Linked DNA regions of Homo sapiens: region 2 is linked to region 1. The links come from fine-mapping of genetic effects on gene expression. Tissue or cell type: whole blood. Region 1 holds a variant in brackets; the other region holds the start of a gene. All regions are shown on one strand. Distances are from middle to middle.

Region 1 (2,500 bases):
CAAGAGGAGATTGATCTGAATAACCTAACATATCCTTACCAAAAACAGACGTCCTCTCATTAACCCATTTCAAAGTTCTCTACCTGTTCTGTGCTTTATACTTCCCTTTCCTCTTCACTACCCACGGTAAGACAAATTTCCTAGGCTCTGTAAATTATTACATCTGTATTCAATGCCAATTATTACCAAGTTTTATTATTATTATTATTATTATTATTATTATTATTATTATTATTGTTTTAGAGATGGGGTTTCACTCTGTTGCCCATGCTGGAGTGCAGTGGTGTGATCATAGCTCACTGTAACCTCAAACTCCCAGGCTCAAGTGATCCTCCTGCCTCAGTGTCCTGAGTAGTTAGGAATACAAGCATATGCCACCACATCCAGCTAGTTGTTTTTTGTTTTTTTGTAGAAACGCAGTCTTGCTATGTTGCCCAGGTTGGTCTTGAACTCCTGGCCTCAGTGATTCTCCCATCTTGGCCTCCCTAATGCTGGGATTATAGGTGCCATGGCACCCAGCCTAAAGCTATTTTAAAAATACATGTTTGGCAGATTAGCAAAGGACGATCAGGTCAATATCAATAAAAATATTAAGATGGAGCCCTCTAAAGAAAACACTTAAGATTTCTTTTGGCTGGGTGTGGTGGCTCACATCTGTAATCCCAGCACTTTTGAAAGGCCGAGGCAGGAGGATCACTTGAACTCAGGAGTTCAAGACCAGCCTGGGCAACATGGCTAAACCTTATCTCTACAAAAAATACAAAAATTGGCTGGATGTGGTGGCACACCCAGCTACTTGGGAGGCTGAGGTGGGAGGACTGCTTGAGCCCAGGAGTTTTAGGATGCAATGAGCTGTGATAACGCCAGTGTAGTCCAGCCTGGGTGACAGAGTGGAGACCCTGTCTCAAAAAAAAAAAAAAAAAAAAAAATTTCTTTTGTCCAGAGAATAAACACCACAGAGACATGGGGGACAATTTCTATTATCTTAGGTAAAATTATCACTTCCAATGAAAAATGAAAAATTATTTTTCTAACTTGACCTATTAACACCTTAAAAATGGACACCGTCACCCATTTGGCTCCTTCAATGTCAAATCCTAATTTGAATGTGACAGATATTTAGCCATCAGTGAAAATATCAGCCAGGCTGGTGGCTCATGCCTGTAATCCCAGCATTTTGGGAGGC[C/T]GAGGCAGGAGGTTCACTTGAACCCAGAAGTTTAAAACCACCCTGGCCAACATGGTGAGACCAAAAAATAATAAAAATGTAATCAACCAAGCGTGGTGGTGCACACCTGTAGTCCTAGCTACTTGGGAGGCTGAGGATAGCTTGAGTCCAGAAGTTTGAGGCTTCAGTGAGCTATGAGACCCTGTCTCCAGAAAAATAAAAAGAAAAAGAAAATATCAAACTAAGTTTAAATATATTAAAGCTTATATTACTACTTATCATAGAAGGTTAGACCTTTCCAATTTTTTTTGTAAGAAAATATAGAAGATATAATTACATTTATACTAAGAGCTTACATGGAATTCTGAAAAGTGGAAAAGTCATCAACTTGTGATCCAAAAACAAGAAATCCTAACTGGGCATAAGCAAAGAATATTATAAAAAACATGATGGCAAATCCTACTATGTCTTTAACACAACGGGACAAGGTTGATGACAGCTGAGACATTGTCTTGTTAAAGCTTATGAATTTGAATATCTGAAAAAGAACAAAGTTAATTGAAATAGGAGAATATCAAAGATGAAATTACTTAGAATAAATTAATTTCAGAAGAATTCTGCTTCGAATTAAAGGAGATATTTAATGATAATCATGGGTGTTTGAGGATTTCCCAGCAATCATTACAAGGCCAAACTTCTGTTTTTTTTTTTTGAGATGGAGTCTCACTCTGTCACCCAGACTGGAGTGCTGTGGCATGATCTCGGCTCACTGCAACCTCTGCCCCCTAGGTTCAAGTGATTCTCCTGCCTCAGCCTCCCTAGTAGCTGGGATTACAGGCACGTGCCACCATGCCCAGCTAGTATTTTTTGTATTTTTAGTAGAGACAGGATTTCACCATGTTGGCCAGGCTGGTCTCAATCTCCTGAGCTCAGGTGATCCGCCCACCTCAGCCTCCCAAAATGCTGGGATTACAGGCGTGAGCCACCGTGCCTGGCCAACTTCTTTTTTTTCTGTCATCCAGGCTGGAGTGCAGTGGGGGATTACAGCTCACTGTAACCTCCACTTCACGGGCTCAAGGGATCCTCCCACCTCAGCCTCCAGAGTAGCTGGAACTACAGGCTTGCACCACCACACCCAGTTAATATTTTTTTGATATTTTTTGTAGAGATAGGATTTCCCAGGCTGGTCTCAAACTCCTGGGGCCAAGAATCTACCTGCCTTGGCCTTCCAAAGTGCTAGGAGTACAGGTATGAGCCACTGTGCTGGCCCAAACTACTTTTAAAATTACTTAATAGTTGAAAAAATCTTTTTTCCCCATGGCTTTTTAGTTTAAT
Region 2 (2,629 bases), 170 kb after region 1:
GGAGGCTATATAAAGTTTTAGTTACTTTTACTTTCTGTCACCTCAGTGTTCCTCTCTTCCTTCTGTGGTTTTAGGGCTTTGTAGTAGTGAAGAAATTTAACAGGTTAAAATGATAAGGATGATAGATTTACTGAGCGTCTCTTCGTACTTTCACCTACATCATGTTATCCTCCTTGAAGCCCCCTACAACACATTGGAGCCTAGTATTTCTTCTTAAACAATCACACGGATTACTCTGAGAAGAAAAACGGACCATTTAAAACATTTTTAGAATCCTGTGATCTTGGAGCTGAAAGGGACTCTAAAGATTGTCTGGTCTGACCCTATATTGTGAATGAGTAGCTGAGCATGAGGTCCAGAGTGTGGAGAACACTACTCAGGAAAGTCACTCACCCAGTGAGTGCTGGTGTGGATTCGGAAAAGCCCAGGGGTGCCATGAGGTGTCCCAGAAGAGAGATGCTCATAGCTGATTTTTTTCTGAGGCATTAGGATAGCTTCTGCACCACTTTTTGCAGCTAATTGTCCCAGTTACCTCTAAGCCTCTGTGGCTAGGATATACAGACTGGCCTCATGCCTTCCACAAGATTATGTTTTAGTTTGGGAAAGAAGATTTATAAATAATGAATTAGCCAAGACTGTATATTAGGTGTGAGATGACGATACAGGAAAGTATAGTTTGTGTATTTTGGTGGTGATTGACTGTCATTGGTGTGATTAGGGAAGGTTTTATGAAGACATGGGATTTGACTGGACTCCCAGAAAGACTAAAGGACTGGGATTGGAGAAGGCATTTCAGGCAGGGAGAGTTAAATTAGTCTAAATTGAAGCTCAGCAGCTGGAGATTACAGGATGTGAAAGATCTTTGGCTGGATATGGGGGTTCAGTGGGAGACTTACTAGTTGGAGCCACTGCTTAAGTTAAATTCCAATATGACAGATTTTAGGAAGATATTTTAGGATTGTGCTAAGATATTTTAGTATTCATTGTGATAGCTTTACTGCAGTAGTCTTTGGCCTCTTGCAGTAAAATAGGGTTTGTTTCAGTTTCACCTATTTGTACTACCTCTCTTTTTCGACTAGTTTTCCAATTTCTCTCTGTATTCTCTTAATTTCTCTCTGTGTTTTTCTCACTTCTGTCAGGTGCTTTTCCCTTAACTTCTCCCCATCTATCAGACACTCAGAGCTACTACAGAATTTGGGAGGAGGATTTGGAACATAAACTGTGACCTACAAGTGAATTTCCCCAGGTGGATGATAAACTCCACTGCAGGCCACAGAGGGGCCTCCTCATTCCAGCAATCTGGCCAGGCTGACAGACTCATAGCCTATGGGAGCAGGGGAGGGTGTAGGGGCCAGTATTTCTCGGGCTAGTGACGAACTGCCTGATTCTTTGCAGCCTAGACAGAGGAGGCAGGAGCCCCAGGGGCGGGCTAATCGCCTGGGCTGGGGATGCCTGGGCAGATGCAGAGGAAGCTGGAAAGGTGGCAGTGCACCTGGGTCGCTGGAGCTGCCGCCGTTCCTAGGAGACCAAGGAGCAGCAAGCCTGCGGGGGAGGGGGAGCAAGTGGGTTGCTGCTTTTAGCAGCTGAAAGGGCTGCAGGGAGCTCTGGGTAAGACATTTTCTGTTGCTGCTGCTTTTGCGGTAGAAGCTGCTGCGAGTAAGTCAGAGGAAGGAGGATTGAGAAGGGAGGAGGCTTCACTTGCAGCCATGCTGAATCACTGTTGCTGATCAGATTTCCCACTGGTCTGCTGGGAGAATCAAGAACAGAACTAGGATCCCCGAGTGCATACACAGTTCAGCAGCTACCACCCTGGCTGGGCCTCACACAATGGAGGGTGAAAGGTATGTATGTATAAGTGTGTGCTGTGTTGTGTGTGTATGTAAGTGTATGTGTGCTTGCGGTGCAGCCACCAGCTTTTGTGTTTGCATTGGCTAGGCAGAGTTGGAAGACCTGGCCACTGATGGATCTTAAAGGGCGCCAGAACAAGAGCAGGAAAGCCGCTTTCCAAATCACCCGTTCCAGGGCTTGAATCTCCAGAGATCTGGCTTCCGCAAAGGCAGGTCTGGGTTTGCTAGGCAGCGGAGCACCCTGAAAGAAGGGACTTCCTGGCTGGTGTTCGGGAATAGTTTCAGCACAGGCTGAATCAGATTGCCTTTCTCAGGCTGTTTCAAGGAGGCGTTTCCCTTTCCTGGCTCCTTTCCCGGGGTGTTTTTTCTTTGGTGGGGGGTTTTTGATGTCATAGTGGGGCTGACCTGACATAGTGTACTTGCATTTTCACGCAGGAGTGCTTGAATCTTCAGCAAGCATGCCATGCTGATGGCTGTGTGTGTGCGCGCGTGCACGCCGTGTATGCCTGTATACACACACATTCAGGGATGAAGGAGAGAAACCCAGTCAGATGATACTTGCTCTGAACTGAGTTTCATATTTGTATTGAAAAGTTTATGAGTGATACTGGAAGGTCTGTGCTTCCTCCATCAGGGATTTCTTTTGAAATAGGAACCAGCAGAAAAGATTTTAAGTACTTTTGTTGAGCTGGATCTAACTAGCGAGGCAGTTAGATCCTGGCAGGCACACACATCTAAATTTTTAAATTGTTATCTGAAGATCTGAATCTTTCATTGTGAAG

The links. PIP is the estimated chance that this variant, and not a neighbour inherited with it, causes the effect.
Region 2: KLHL3 starts here. The variant in region 1 is fine-mapped to the expression of KLHL3 in whole blood (TOPMed, PIP 0.96).

The regions. Positions count from the first base shown.
Region 1 is chr5:137,907,968-137,910,467 of GRCh38, reverse strand. It overlaps PKD2L2 (polycystin 2 like 2, transient receptor potential cation channel), which reads right to left. Exons shown (of 15, transcript NM_001300921.2): 8 at 1,522-1,703. Among named protein-coding and RNA genes, the nearest start is that of PKD2L2, 20 kb to the right of the region's middle. The variant C/T (reference allele first, on the strand shown) is at 1,187.
Region 2 is chr5:137,734,845-137,737,473 of GRCh38, reverse strand. It overlaps KLHL3 (kelch like family member 3), which reads left to right and starts at 1,385. Exons shown (of 15, transcript NM_017415.3): 1 at 1,385-1,841. The coding sequence starts at 1,828. RefSeq lists an enhancer at 1,118-1,786.